2 separate regions of the Homo sapiens genome follow, and region 1 is linked to region 2. The links come from fine-mapping of genetic effects on gene expression. Tissue or cell type: hypothalamus. Region 2 holds a variant in brackets; the other region holds the start of a gene. All regions are shown on one strand. Distances are between the middles of the regions.

Region 1 (8,000 bases), 550 kb before region 2:
GATTGCTTCCTGGGGATGTGGAACTGCATTGCATTCTCCACTGTCACACTCCCAACCTTCTCCATAGAATTCTCTTCTAGAGACTACCAGGTTGGTCAATCAAATTAGCCTAATAACTAAAGCCCAAGTCTTATTCCTAAAGTATTTTAACCCTATCCAAGATTTGGCCCAGAGATCATATGGAATTATCATCCAGGTTCAATCATTTTAATGTACCTCCTCTGAGATAATTAATCAGGAGCAGAAAAATTAGATACAGTGGTGACTACGTATTGCACTAGTTGTTATATTCTCCAATCCTTACCCCACCCTCAATGCTACAAGACCATCCTGGCTAACACAGTGAAACCCCGTCTCTACTAAAAACACAAAAAATTAGCCGGGCGTGGTGGCGGGCGCCAGTAGTCCCAGCTACTCAGGAGGCTGAGGCAGGAGAATGGTGTGAACCCAGGAGGTGGAGCTTGCAGTGAGCCGAGACTGCACCACTGCGCTCCAGCCTGGGCGACAGAGCGAGACTCCGTCTCAAAAAAAAAAAAAAGCAGGACTAAAATCGATTTGCATTTGAAAGTCCAACCTAAAGGCTGAAAACAAAATATAGACCAGTCTTGATGTTTAGCTTAAGGATACAAAAATGTGCTCAGTCTGTTAACTGCTTAGTTCCATGAAAGTTCTTACCCAGTGTTACAAGAAAAACTGATCGTGTTGGGATATTCAAAAGTCGTATAGCGTACGGCTCCATTTTCTAAGATTCCAGCAAAAGGACATACTCTGGCTGTGATACAAAGATAAAAAATGTTACTTTTCTTTGGGCTAAAAAAAAACATAAACAGGTAAATTTCTATTTATAGAATTTTTCATTAAATGAAACATATAAATTCATTTTCATCCTTTGGTTCAATAACTTTACTGGTAACTATTCTAAGAAAGCAATTCAAAATAAGACAAGTGATATATGTACAAAAGCGTTCATTATACTGTTTCTCCTAATAACAGAATTTGGACAGGCGGGGAGCAGTGGCTCACGCCTGTAATCCCAGCACTTTGGGAGGCAGAGGAGGGTGGATCACTTGAGGTCAGGAATTTGAGACCAGCCTGAACATGGTGAAACCCCATCTCTACTAAAAATACAAAAATTAGCTGGGCATGATGGTGGGTGCCTGTAGTCCCAGCTACTCTGGATGCTGAGGCAGGAGAATAGCTTGAACCCAGGAGGCAGAGGGTGCCAAGATGGCACCACTGCACTGGGCAATAGAGTGAGACTCCGTCTCCAAAAAAAAAAAAAAAATTGGATAGTCTAAGGGTTCATCAGGGGACTGTTTTAATTAATCATGGTAAATCAAAAGTTGAACTATTATGTAGCCAATAAAATATGAATTGTGAAATATGTGGAGATACAATTTTTATGATATGCTGATGAAAACAGAAAAATACAAAATTATACCTGCTCTCTGCAGTAATGCAAAAAGATATGCATGGAAAATAAAAAAATGAAATTTTTAGTGTTCCAGAGTTATAGCTGATTTTTATTTTATTTATTTATTTATTTTTTTTTTTGAGACAGAGTCTCACTCTGCTGCCCAGGCTGGAGTGCAGTGGCACAATCTCAGCTCACTACAACCTCTGCCTCCCAGGTGATTCTCCTGCCTCAGCCTCCTGAGTAGCTGGGACTACAGGCGCATGCCAGCATGCCCGGCTAATTTTTTTTATTTTTAGTAGAGACGAGGTTTCACCATGCTGGCCAGGCTGGTCTTGAACTCCTGACCTCAGGCGATCCACCCACCTTAGGTTCCCAAAGCGCTGGGATTACAGGTGTGAGCCACCGCACCTGGCCCTGATTTAAAGAAAAATTTTCCCTAATGATGTTACATTGGCTTTTTACTAAAAATTATGTTTAGGCTCTTTAAGCAAAAAAGCATAGTAAAATCAACTTGCATGAACATGCATAACTTTGACAAAGGTCCTGTTCATATAACCAAAATCACCAGATCCATACATCTATTTTTACTGCTTAACTTCTACATATAATTAAATGTACCATAAATTCAATCTGGTTGATTGCATAATACTTGACTGTAAAGAATAATGCTAGCATGATATCATAGAACCATGTTCTAAGAAATAAATAAAAGCAACCATTTACAGTAAAGCCATAGTGAGATTGATATATTTTACGTTATATTATTATTTTAATTTGACCTCTTTTCTTGTATTTCATTATAATATAATATATACATAATGTAGATGAAATTTGTATTCATTTCAGTAACTATTAAGTCCGCTTTCATTTTCAGGTGAAGTCCAAAGATATGATGATTCCCCAAATTTTGTTTTTCCAAATGTCTCTTTGGCATCAGTTGACATTTCAAAGCCTCTCCACTGTTCTTTTAACTTCTGTAGTGTTTCTTTCTCCTTTTGCCACACCAGATCTCATTTTTAAACCTACCCTAGTTTCAGGCTATGATCTTCTCCTCTTCTATCAATAGCACCTATTACCCTTACTCTCTTTGCACAGAGAGAACTCCCCAAGACCTTCTCATTTCTCTCCAACCTGGCTTTCTGCAGCATCTACTGGCCCTCTGCACTCTGAGCATGACGAGGTAGCTTATTCCTCCAAAATACCCAGAATCCAAATGAGGGAAGAGAATGTGAGAGAAGGTACTGACTTACGTGTACATTTCAGAGTGTTGATGGGCCACAGTCCTGTGAGAGGGCAGATAAACTTTCTCATCCCTCCTCGGGACACATAGCCCGGCTTGCAGGAATACGTAATCTCTTCTCCTGGCTCATAGAATGTTTTTAACGGGACCACTGTGGAAAATGGTAAATCATCTGGCTTGGGACAGGCTGAAAGAGGGCACAAAGCAGATGGTTAACAAATCTCTATTTGCATTTTAAAGTTCAGCTAAGCCCACAAATGAAAAATGTGTGTACTGTTACCAATTATAAGCATACCAAGTTGCATGCCAAATACCTCATATACACTATCTCATCTAATCCCCTCAACAACCATTTGAAGGAGGTATTATAATTATCCCCATTTTACAGGTCAGTATGCTGAGGCTTAAATTGGCTACGTATCTTACAGAGGAGCTTTACACATGGCAATATTAAAGAATCAGTATCAATCCAGTCCCTCCAGCATCCACTCTAAAGAGAATTTAGTTATCAGCTGGGCGCAGTTGCTCACACCTGTAATCCCAGCACTTTGGGAGGCTGAGGCGGGTGGATCACGAGGTCAGGAGATAGAGACCAACCTGGCTAACACGGTGAAACCCCGTCTCTACTAAAAATACAAAAAATTAGCCGGGTGTGGTGGCGGGCGCCTGTGGTCCCAGCTACTCGGGAAGCTGAAGCAGGAGAATGGAGTGAACCCAGGAGGCGGAGCTTGCAGTGAGCCGAGATCGCACCACTGCACTTCAGCCTGGCGACAGAGCGAGACTCTGTCTCAAAAAAAAAAAAAAAGAATTTAATTATTCTTCTTCTTATTATTATTATTGTTGACTGAGTTTTGCTCTTGTTGCCCAGACTGGAGTGCAATGGGGGGACCTCGGCTCACTGCAACCTCTGCCTCCCAGGTTCAAGCAATTCTCCTGCCTCAGCCTCCCGAGTGGCTGGGATTACAGGCGCCTGCCATCACGCCCGGCTAATTTTTGTGTTTTTAGTAAAGACAGGGTTTCACTATGTTGCCCAGGCTGGGCTCGAATTCCTGACCTCAACTGATTCGCCCACCTCGGCCATGATGCCCAGCTAATTTTTGTATTTTTCATAAAGACGGGGTTTCACCATGTTGGCCAGACTGGTCTCGAACTCCTGACCTCAGGTGATCCACCTGCCTTGGCCTCCCAAAGTGCTGAGATTACAGATGTGAGCAAGCACGCCCGGCCTACTTATCATTATTGATCCCTGACATATACGAAGGGGTTGGATATATTAATTATTTTTTCAAAAGCAAAAAGTACTTACTCCGTCCTGCAATAGCAACATGGCAGAGAAAACTCGAGAACAAGATGAGCACTGGAGAAATCATTGTGGATGAGTCACACTGGCACTACCAAAGTGGTTTTCGTCTGCTAAAAAGACAGAGCCAAATATGAAAGCGCTTAAACATTAACCATTTTCTGGTGTACTTTTATCTTTGTAAATAGAAGATAAAGTATCATGATTTGAATGGAACTCTGAGACCCACATTCTTTAATCATTTACTTTCCACTTATGTGGCTCTGTTATGAAATCTTTGGGAGATGGTTTCTGTCTTCATAACGTTTTTGTTAATGGCACAAAACAGTTCATTATTGCTTTTGACAGAAACTTGTTGTTTCCGGGGTTGCCTGGACTTCTCATTCTCCATCTTTTGTTTTGTGTATGTTGTAGATGGAACACCAAAAGATCGAAGCTCCTGTTTCACTCACAGCCTTGGCATATAAACTTTGGACAAACACCTACTCTCTGTTCTCAGTCTCCACCTCTCTAAAATGATGTTCCAGTTTTCAGATGTATAATTACAAAGAATGTCTTCCAGGAGGCACTTACAACTTTAATTCCCTACAAACTGAGCTCAACATCCTCTCTTGCAAGCTCCTATAGCTCCAGTTAGGACCTTAGAGCTATCCTTGAATTCTCTATCTTCTCTTACGTCAGATCAATACAAAGTCCTCCTCATCCATTCTTAATATGTCTTGGATCTGTCTAGACAGGTTTCTAGATCTGTTTCAGGAATTTGAAAATTGATTTGAAATTAACAACTTGGGACTCGAAGAAGAAAAAAAAACTTGAGTAGGATAAGATAATGGGCCAGTGCTGATGTTGTTGCTTGAGAGGGTTCGGAAGGGGGGTTGTCTTTGATTCCCTAGTTCTCTTCTACATCATTTGCTCTAAAAAAAAAAAAAAGGATATATAAATGGACAATAGCCAGGCCATATGTGAAAACAGAACTCTGACCCACACATCTGTAGCAACAGGTCTAGAAAGCCAAACCTACAACCTCTATAGCAGTTGGCCCAACTTAAGGCCAACCAGAGAAATCCAAACATATTTCTCTAACCAATCACATGGACACCTCACTTCTAGTTAGTTTCCTTCCATCCTCCCCATACCAACAATCCGTTGGAGCACACCTGAAGCCTTTCCTTTTTTCTATTATAAAGCTTTCCCACTCCTCTGTCTGACTTTGACTTTGAGTCTCTGCCAAACACAACTGTTAATGGCTGCCTCCCTTCCTATAGCAAGCTCTGAATAAATAACCTCCGCTTGCTCTCATTTGGGTGATCTTGGTTTATATCCAGAGGTCTAAAATTCCCTGAGACACATCAGCTTGAGAAATCTCCATCTGTCAGGCAGATGATTCTTAAATTACGATCCTAATGAACATTGTGTTCCATGATAAGAAGAGTGTGCTGCCACTAATGTGAAATAACAGTGGTCCTTCCCTATTTGTCCTTCTAAGGGGAAGGAGATTCTTGTTCTCTGGATAATTCCCAGGTTCCGCTTTATTGTGGAGAATCTCCTTGATGAATGAAGAAGAAAGAAAACTAATGAAGTCAGGAGGAGCCAAGTCGTTCTGTATAGTAAGATCTGAAGTAGAAGGGGAAAAGGAGAGAGAAACCAAAGAGGTCGGGCATCAGTTAAAGAAAATTTGAGAAAAGGTTAAAATTGAGACGAGAATATTTTCAGCAACAGCTACAAACTGAGTGCCTGATATTGAGAGAGGACAAGGAGAAGGGTTTTTAATGATGTTTCCTGGTGGCTGGGCTCCCTTGCATTAGGAAACTTGGGGTAGGGGTGTCGAAATAGTTTATATTCTATTTTAGGTGGTTGTTACTTGGCTACATGCAATTTTCAAAAGCCATCAAGCCAAATATTTAAGATCTGTGTGTTTACTTGATTATACTTCAATTGGAAAACTATGCACTCCTTTCCTCCTTCTTCCCTCCCTCCCTTCTTCCTTCCCTCCCTCCCTTCTCCTTCCTTCCCTCCCTTCTCCCCTCCCTTTTTCCCTCCCTTCCTCCCTCCCTCCTTTCTTCCCTTCCTTCCTTCCTTCCTCCCTCCCTTCCTCTCTTTCTCCTTTCCTCCCTTCCTCTCTTCCTCCCTTCCTCCTTCTTTTCATCCTAACTCAGTCTAAAAGTCACAAGGAAGGCCTCAAGGGGAAAGTCATGCTTATCTGTGTAAGGATGGCAGCGTGATGGTGTCACAAGCTTAGCTACATATAGGAGATTGAGCAAACAAGCAAATATATTGAGGATAATGGGGGTCAGGTTTCTCACTAACAAGAGAAGTAACAATGCGGAAAGAAGGAAAGTTAGCATGAACCTTGAGGTGTTGGATTGAAAATGGAGACAGTACAAATTGTGCGTATATATAAACAGATACAGAAATCAATATAGATATAATGGTATGTACATGTGTGTGAATGTATGCCTGAATATACATATAATTCTTAGTTCTGTCCACTAGGATAATAGCAGTAGTACATCCAGTAGCAATGAGCACACACAGTGCCTAAATATTGGTTGTTAAATGCAATTCTTGGCCAGGCCGTGGTGGCTAATGCCTGTAATCCCAGCACTTCAGGAAGAAAGAAAGATCGCTTGAGGTCAGGAGTTCAAGACCAGCCTAGCCAACAGGGTGAAACCCTGTCTTTACAAAAACTACAAAACCTAGCCAGGCATGATGGCAGGTGCCTGTAATCCCAGCTACTTGGGAGGCTGAGGCAAGATAATCATTTGAACCCAGAAGGCAGGGGTTGCAGTGAGCCAATGAGATTGCAACACTGCACTCCAGCCTAGGCAACAGAGCGAGACACTATCTAAATAAATAAATAAATGCAATCCACCATCGAAAGGCACCAAAGCTCCTTAGAAAATTGGCTGATTCTTGAACTGGGTCAAGGAAAAGTACAAGATGAGCCTGGAACACCATCTTGAACAACTTAGGTAATGCTCAGAGAATGATAGGGACATGTCCAAAGGACAGAGAAGCCATTTGAAAGTGGCTTTCTTGACTGGGTGCGGTGGCTCACGCCTGTAATCCCAGCAGTTCAGGAGGCCGAGGTGGGTGGATCACTTGAGGTCAGGAGTTTGAGACCAGCCTGGCCAACATGGTGAAATCCCGTCTCTACTAAAAATACAAAAATTAGCAGGGCATGGTGGCGTGTACCTGTTATGCCAGCTAGGAGGCTGAGGCAGGGGAATCACCTGAACCCGGGAGGCAGAGGTTGCAGTGAGCCAAGATCGTGACACTGCACTCCAGCCTGGGCGACAGAGTGAGATTCCATCTCAAAAAAAAAAAAAAAAAAAAAAAAAAAAAAAAAGCGGGGGGCGGGGGGTGCTTTCTCTGGTCAAATATGTGACAGTTTGTCCAAATAAGTAATAATAGTAATGGATTATACTCCACTGAATAAAATAGGAATCAGTGAGTCCACAGTGATAGTAATAAACACATTAACAATTATGTGAAGAGATAAGAAAGTTATTCCTTAGAGTATAATGCCAAGCAATTAATATAGAGGAATACTGGACTTAGAGAATTGTAATTTGGAAATAATTATGAAACGATTTAATTCTGGCAAAGAAGTATCAATTGATGCTAGAATCAGGGGATACAAGTAGGATGAGAAATGTTCATACAGCCTTAAACATGTCTCCACATAAAATAACTATTTATTATAAAGGAGACAAAGAGAAACTTAGAGGGGAAGAACCTGGCAGACACCATCTTAATTAAGTAATCAAAATTAATGTCACCACTAATGGGATAAATTGGCATGTATGTCCTCCACCAAGAGGATGCAATGAGAAGGACACAGCGTCACTTCTGTGATATTCCTGCCAAAAGCTTAGTAACCTGGATTGTGTCATGAGAAGGCACTGTACACACACAAATTGAAGGACGTTATGCAAAATGACTGCCCTGTCATCTTCAAAAGGGCAAAAGCCATGAAAGGCAAAGAAAGACTTAGGGAACCCAGGTGGACATGAGAACTGGGTGCACAGTGTGGGCCCGAA
Region 2 (8,263 bases):
GTGTCTTTTTTTTTTTTTTTGAGACAGCATCTCACTCTGTCGCCCAGGCTGGAGTGCAGTGGGGGCGATCTTGGCTCACTATACTCTGCCTCATGGGTTGAAGCAACTCTCCTGCCTCAGCCTCCCGAGTAGCTGGGATTACAGGCATGCACCACCACACCTGGCTACCTTTTTTGTATTTTTAGTAGAAACGGGGTTTCACCATGTTGGCCAGGCTGGCCTCAACCTCCTGACCTGAAGTAATCCACCCACCTCGGCTTCCCAAAGTTCTGGAATTACAGGCGTGAGCCACTGCCCCTGGCCAGCAATGTGTCTTAAAAAGTTTTACTTTTGAGTTAGAAGCATTTATTTTGACCCACCAATTCTATTGACAGGAATTTATTTTGCAGAAATAGTCAAAGGTCTTGCCAAGATACTCATGATATATTATTAAATAAACAAACTGACCACAAAATAGCAGGCTCACATAATTCAGTTTTTAATGCATATGTACACACATATCACACCTAGAAAAAAATATGGAAAGGTTTTATATGGAAATAACATTAATATTTCTGGATAGTGATCATAAACAATTTTACTTCCTTATTTCTTTTTTTTTATTTTTTTTGAGACGGAGTCTCGCTCTCTTGCCCAGGCTAGAGTGCAGTGGTATGCAGTCTTGGCTCATTGCAACCTCCACCTCCCGGGTTCAAGCGATTCTCCTACCTCAGCCTCCCAAGTAGCTGGGACTACAGGCAGGCATCACCATGCCCAGCTAATTTTTGTATTTATAGTAGAGACAGGGTTTTACCATGTTGTCCAGGATGGTCTCCATCTCTTGACCCTCATGATCCACCCGCCTTGGCCTCCCAAAGTGCTGGGATTACAGGCATGAGCCACCACGCCCGCCGCTTCCTTATTTCTTTAGCTTTTCATTTTCTTCCTAATTGTTCTTTAATGAGCATGCATGGCTTCTGGAATTTTTTTTAAAAGCACAAAAAGATTATTTTTAACAGAATGGTTTTACCTGGTAATGGAAAATATAATGACATTGGTATCAGGGAGATAAATTCAGTCCAGTCCTTTTGGGAGAGCAATTTACCATTGTATCAAAGGTTATAAAAATATGCAACTCCTTTGATGCAAAATTTTGTCTGGGAACTGGAATGAGATGTATCATCCCCGGGTAATAGACTGGAGACTCATTTCTTGGGGTTTCTTATGTGTGTATTTTCCAAGTTTTCAGAAAAGAATGTGCAGAACAAAGGTTGTAAAAGAAATTAGAGACTCCTTGTAGGTTCCTATGTTTATATCATTTTCTTGTCAAGGAAATGAGCTACAAAGGTGCCAGATCTAATCTTGTTTACCCTTGTTACTGCCCACACTTAAACTGTTGGTGCTTGTGTTTCTCATCCTACATGCAGAAATATTAGTAATACATTAAAGAAATGAAAGTGGGCAGACATGCAGAAAGTTTTATGTCCGAGGACATTTAATTAGACATTCTGGGCCATTAAAAAAAAAAAATCCCAGAACATTTCAAAGTAAAAGTTGTAAGCGAAATGGCAGAATGGTTATGCTGAGTACCTGTTAGTGTGTCTTGACCTTGAATCCTGGCATGTGATCCATGGGTCTGGGAATTGTGTGCAGCAGGTACACAGCGTACCTGAGAGGTAATGAAGCCAGTGTTTTAATAAGCCCTGCCATACTTAGAAATTCAAATCCATGTTACTCCCTTCCACGAAGGGAGGTTATAGAATTATTCTAGTACTTCTGATAGCCACAAAGGTAGAAGGAAGTGTAGAATGAGCTCCCTGTGGACCCATCACCAATTTCAACAGCTGCCAGCATTTGCCAACTCATTTCATTTATTTTTCTCCCACCTCATTTATTGAAGTGTTTTTTTTTAATTTAAGATATGTCAGTTCACCCATAAATACTTTATCTCTTTTCTATTTCACCCATAAATATACTCATTTCTAACTGATAAGCACACTTTAAAAATGTTTTAATAGTATTATTACTTTTTAAGAGACAGAGTCTTGCTACGTTGCCCAGGCTAGCCTCAAACTCCTGGGCTCAAGTGATCCTCCTGCCTCAGCCTCCCAAGTAGCTGGGACTCCAGACTCACACCACCACACCCAGCCAGAAAACATGTTTTCTAACTAGTCAACATACCATTATGCCACCTAACAAAATGAATGGTAAGTCCTCAGTATCATCTGACATCCAGATTGTATCTTAATTTTCCCAGTTGTTTCAAATTTTCTTTGTTGCAGTTGGCTCTAGATACTATATTTGCTTACTATATTTTATGTCTTTTAAAAAGTGTTTTAAAACTTCTGTTTTTCAATAGACTGAATGTATATCATTGCACTTCTCTGTGCAACACAAGAAAACTATAATGTTTCCTTATCATCATCCTTACTATTATACTCTTAGTAAAGCCCTGTTACATAGTTTGATCATCTTATATGTCAGACTCAAACTCTGAATGACCTCTGGCTTTTCCTTTTTTTTTTTTTTTTTTTAATTAAAAAAATTTTTTTTAATAGAGACAGGATCTTACTATGTCACCCAAGCTGGTTTCAAACTCCTGGACTCAAGCAATCTTCCTGCCTCAGCCTCCCAAAGTGCTGGGATTAGAGGTGTGAGCTGCTGCACCCGGCCTCTGGCTTTTTCTCAAAATTAAATCCACCTCAGTGTCCACATACTTTCTGCCAGGGAGGATAATTAAAACTACCTTCAGACAGTGCTGTGGCATCTCCAGGTGGATTCAGAACAAGATTCCCCAAACCAGCCGTGGGCAGTGAATCACGGGGTGATAGTTCTCCGTGTGTCTGATTTGAAGGGTCCTCTTCCCTTGGCGTAACATCAAAGACAGATCTTAGCACCTCATCTGCATGAACTGAGTGTATAAATGCCTACCTGCTTGACTTACCTGTTCTGACAGGGGCTATTGGACTTACCACTAATGTAATTGATGTGTTTGTTTTCACACAGATAATCGCTTATCAGCCGTATGGAAAATCTGTGGACTGGTGGGCCTATGGCGTCCTGTTGTATGAAATGCTTGCCGGGCAGGTAATGTTTTGCTACATTTTCATGTTTGTTTATTGCTGTGTTATGTGAATACTTCAGCTCTGGTTGGGCCTCGAGAGCAAGACCTGACGTTTTAGTGCAGCTGGTGTTGGCGTGACTTCCCTGACCCAGGCGAAAGAGGGAGAAACGCCCCCTTCAAAGTGGATCACGTTCAGTATGCACAGAAATTATCTCTGGTCATAGAAACTCCAAATTGAAAGCTACAACCTGGAGTGTAGACAGTGTCAGTTTCACGTTATGAAATGTACATGTTGGCCAGGCGCGGTGGCTCATGGCTATAATCCCAGCACTTTCAGAAGCCAAGGCAGGCGGATCGCCTGAGGTCAGGAGTTCGAGACCACCCTGGCCAACATGGCGAAACCCCATCTCTACTAAAAATACAAAAATTAGCCAGGCGTGGTGGTGCACATCTGTAAACTCAGCTACTTGAGCTACTGAGGCATGAGAATTGCTTAAGCCTGAGAGGCGGAGGCTGCAGTGAGCCAAGATCGTGCCACTGCACTGCAGCCTGGGCAACAGAGTGAGACGGTCTCAAAAAAGAAAAAAATGTGCACGTTGATGACAGCAGTGGCCTCTAAGTTTTCAGTATCTTAAAACTGGGGTTGGGTTATATGGTTCCCTGCAAGTTTGTCTGCAAAGATTGCCCCAGCTGCTGCCAATGTGTGTAATTAGTATTATTATTTAAGGAAGAAGACAGTTACCTTGAAGAAGTGTTTTAATAGTTTCTCCCCATCTCCTCCTATCTCACCCTTGGCAATTCGTTGTAATTTTCACTGAAGTCCAGTGAGGCTGAACATCCAGTTAAGGAAGGTAAATTAGCTTTCTCTTATGATGTGACATGTACCAGATAACCATGTGCCTTATTGCCTAACATGGCACTTTCTAATATAATGGCCTTAATATCTGTGTCATCAGGGTGAATCGTACTATCTGCCACTTCTAGGCCTGGCCCCTAAGACATCCTTTATGACTGTCCTCATGCTCTAGGCTGAAATTAGGAGGAATTAGTGGAGAAATCTGAGACCCTACAAGATGGTGGTGCTGATGGATGCGAGAAGCCTGAGTCTTTGAATGACCCTGTGGTCAGTGCCCACCCCCACATAGGACACTTCCGTGGCAAAGTCCCATGTGGGGGTG[G/A]GGCACTGACCCACAGGTTCATTCAAGGACACAGGTTTCTCCTGTCCGTCAGCCCTACTACCTTTTAGGGTCTCAGATTTCTCCGCTAATTCCTCCTCCTTTCAGCCGAGCACAGATCAGTTACATAGGATATCTTAGGGGCCGGCCTAGAAATGGCATGTATCACTTCTGCCTAGGTTCCACTGGCCACTTGGCCCCAGTGGGACACAAAGAGGCAGGAAGTATAGCATATCTGAGAGCTCAGCAGGGGAAGCAGGCTTGGTAATCACGAAGCAGGCTTGGTAATCACCCAGCAGATCTCTGCCTTATACTAAACATGATTCTGCCGTGGGCAGCTTTTTATAATTCCCAGCACTCACATGCTAGTGCCAAGACCTGTGACTCTCCATAGCCAGAAGCCTTAGTCAGAGACAATGGAAAGAGATGGCCATGCTGTGCGACAGAGCCACCCCCAAAGACATCTTTGTTTCTGGGGAAAAAGTCTTCCCTTCCCACATGTTACGTCCATTGACTCATTTATTCATTCACTCACCACGTATTTATTCACTGAATGCTTACAATGTGCATGGCCATAAGGATGAACAAAACAGACGAGAATCCTTAACTTCGTGAAGCTTACAGCTTAGAGGAGGAGAGACAGCAGACAGGTTAGATAAGGAAAATGTATAACACAGCAGAGGTAAGCTAGGAAGAAAAGTAATAAAGCAGGAAAGAAGATAGTGTTGGGGGAGGTTGAAATTGGCCAGAGAGGATAAGGTTAAGACCTAAAGGAAGTATGGGGTTGTCTGTGTGCATATCTGTTGAAAGGGCATTCCAGGCAGAGGGAGCCACCACGCGAAGGCCCTAAGGCCAGGGAATGTGCAGCCACGTTTAAGAAATGGAAGCTCCCAGCAGGGCTAGAGCAGAATTGAGCTAGAGAGGGAGGGAGTAGGAGGCCTGAGGCCAGAGAGGAAGAGGCTCTGGATCCTGTTGTTAGCAGTGGTGCATCCCCATGAGGCTGCAGCAACCTCAGTTCTTGCCTCCTCAGAAGAAAGAATTTGACTGTGGGGCATCAGGTAGAGTGAGAGCCTAAGACAAGCTGTTTCTGTTTTGTTTTGTTTTGTTTTTGAGATGGAGTTTTGCTCTGTTGCCCAGGCTGGAGTCGGTGGCGCGATCTCAGCTCACTGCACCCTCCGCCTCCCAGGTTCAAGCAATTTTCTGCCTCAGCCTCCTTAGTAGCTGGGATTACAGGCACCTGCCAACACGCTTGGCTAATTTTTGTATTTTTAGTAAAGACGGGGTTTCACCATCTTGGCCAGGCTGGTCCTGAGCTCCTGACCTCGTGATCCACCCGCCTCAGCCTCCCAAAGTGCTGGGATTACAGGCATGAGCCACTGCACCTGGCCTAAGACAAGTTTTAGAGAGGAATGAAAGTTCATGGAAAAGCTTTCAAGCAGGAGCAAAAGGAAGTAAAGTACACTTGGAAGAGGGCCAAGCCGGCGACTTGAGAGATCTAGTGCACTCTTTGACTTTTGACTTGGGGTTTTATGCATTGGTGTTCTTCCAGGGTCTTACATCTCTTCTCCCCTGATTCTTCCCTTGGGTTGGGCTGTCTGCGTGCGCAGTGGCCTGCTAGTGCTTGGGAGGGGCGGCATGTGCAGTGTGTTTACTGGAGTTACGTGTGTGCTCAGCTGAGGCATTCTTCCCTTACCAGTCAGATGTCCTAGAAGGTGGTGTACCAGTTAAACTCCGCCATGTTGCCTTTTCATGCGCGTGCTTGAGCCCACTCGCCCAACTCCTGAAATCTTATTGGGAAGCTGCTGCTCACCAGTTTCAGGTGTTTCCCTTTATTGGGAGACTGCCTTTCCTTGGTGCTGGCTGCGACCAATTATTATTTTACAGAGAGAGAGTTAACCACCTGATGGTCGCCTGACATTCCTGGTGGGTAGGGGGAGCCCTCTCCTGCCCTGCCCATGTCCGAACAGCCACCTGTTGTAACACTGTGACCATGAACGTCATCTCCAGATCAGCGGCTTTGCCTCTAGGATGGGAGGCTGTGGATGATCTCTCCTTTATGTGTCTTTCATTATATTTCCTAAATACTGAAATGGTCTTGTAGACATTGAAAGACATAAAGCTTTAGCCTGCATTTGATCATTATTTCTCAATGGTGTTAAGGCTTGACTGACATCAAAAGAGTGGTTTATTATTTATTTAGTTCCCCTCCCCCCACCCCAAATCAAAGCATTCCTCTTAGGCCAAATACGTCCGGGTGTAAACACAGAAAGGCAGTTCGTACACAGTCACCATCAGTGAGTCAATGGCTGGAGAAACAGGAGTTGTCTGCTCCTCAAGTTAATTTCCCCCTCTTTAAAATTTTTACAGTAAAATTCGGCTCTGAATTACAGGCCCCCTAAGAGTCCTGCTTTTCATGAAGTCACAAAAAGCCAAGTCCCCCTCTTGATCCCACTTGAATGTTCAGCTCTTGAGTCTGGAAAACAAACCCTGCTTTCATTAAGAGTCACATTTGCATATGCTAACATGCAAAAGGGGCTGGGCGGAAACGAAGCCAGGATCTGTTTCCGAGGGCGCTTTACAAGAGGTCACGTGAGTAGACTCTTGGCCAGCAGGAGACAAGAATTTCAGAACCCAGGTCTGCAGGAAAGTCCTCCTCCCTCCCGCAGCCTGGCTTCTCCCCTCTCCAAGCCTTCCTGGGATCTCATTCACTAGGGGAGAACTCAGGGAATGCTTTCTTCTGGCAGAGAAGTCCCCTTTGGGGGGTGCATTTTGAAGCTCTGCCACACTGGCCTCAGACCTCATTTGCAAATTGGCCTGAGGTGATTTACAGGCCTTATTTAAAGGTTTCCCTACTAAGCTCACGCCCCCTGGAGAGCACCAGGCTCCAGCTCTCAATAGTTCTGCAAACTTTCTGGCCTGTTTCCAATATTTCCCACACTGCTTCTCAGAGCCACTTAGCCTGCCTTATATGCATACTTTCAGGTCTCCATCATCTCTATTAAAAACGGTGATGGCTGGGCCCGGTGGCTCACACCTGTAATCCCAGCACTTCGGGAGGCCGAGGCGGGCGGATCACGAGGTCAGGAGATTGAGACCATCCTGGCTAACACAGTGAAACCCCATCTCTACTAAAAATGCAAAAAAAAATTAGCCGAGTGTGGTGGCGGGCGCCTGTAGTCCCAGCTACTCGGGAGGCTGAGGCAGGAGAATGGCGTGAACCCGGGAGGCGGAGCTTGCAGTGAGCCGAGATCGCGCCACTGCACTGCAGCCTGGGCGACAGAGCGAGACTCCATCTCAAAAAAATAAAAGAAAAAAAGAAAACGGTGATATTCTTTAAAGATGACACCTTAGACCAGGTGCAGTGGCTCATCCCTTTGGGGCCCTTGGGAGGCCAAGGTGGGTGGATCACTTGAGTCCAGGAGTTCGAGACCAGGGCAACATGACAAAATCCCGTCTACAAAAGATGCAAAAATGAGCTGGGCGTGGTGGCAAGTGCCTGTCATCCCAGCTACGTAGGAGGCTGAGGTGGGAGGATTGATCGAGCCCGGGGGGTCAAGGCTAGCAGTGAGCTGTGATCATCACACCACTGCACTCCAGCCTGGGTGAGAGAGTGAGACCCTGTCTCCAAAAAAAAAAAAAAAAACAACAACTCCTTAAAGGCACTCCACATTCTGGTGCAATGGCAGGCACAGATAACAGCCTTTGTTCCTCTAAATCTCCACCTCACCCGCCTCAAACACAGTGTTTTCATTCAAATCCCCTTCTTCATCTTTCTCTCTGACTCCTCAATGCAAATTTAAATGTATTCCTAGGCTGTCACTCAGCTCAGAAAGGATAATGAAGGCTCTACCCAGTATTATCCACAGCCCCTCCAAGCTTCAGCAATCCCAGAGACCCAGCAAACGGAATAGATGTTGTTATTGAAAAGTAAGATTAATGATAAAGTCGTTGACAGGGTTTTGGTCTAAGTTTGTCCTCTTTAATCGCAGAGGGCTGAAGATGAGCAGGAAAAAAATAGTTTATTGCCATTTTCTTCTCATTTGCT

Alleles and levels. Positions count from the first base shown, and alleles are read on the strand shown. Sizes are in standard deviations (SD) of each study's normalised expression.
For the expression in hypothalamus of the gene that starts at base 4,063 in region 1, allele G in region 2 goes with a lower level than allele A (large effect, 1.4 SD a copy in GTEx).

The links. PIP is the estimated chance that this variant, and not a neighbour inherited with it, causes the effect.
Region 1: APOH starts here. The variant in region 2 is fine-mapped to the expression of APOH in hypothalamus (GTEx, PIP above 0.99).

Annotation. Positions count from the first base shown.
Region 1 is chr17:66,225,353-66,233,352 of GRCh38, forward strand. APOH (apolipoprotein H) reads right to left here and starts at 4,063. Exons shown (of 8, transcript NM_000042.3): 1 at 3,964-4,063; 2 at 2,668-2,844; 3 at 676-772. The coding sequence starts at 4,027. RefSeq lists a silencer at 7,699-7,993.
Region 2 is chr17:66,771,002-66,779,264 of GRCh38, forward strand. It overlaps PRKCA (protein kinase C alpha), which reads left to right. Exons shown (of 17, transcript NM_002737.3): 14 at 2,986-3,066. Among named protein-coding and RNA genes, the nearest start is that of MIR634, 12 kb to the right of the region's middle. The variant G/A (reference allele first, on the strand shown) is at 4,222.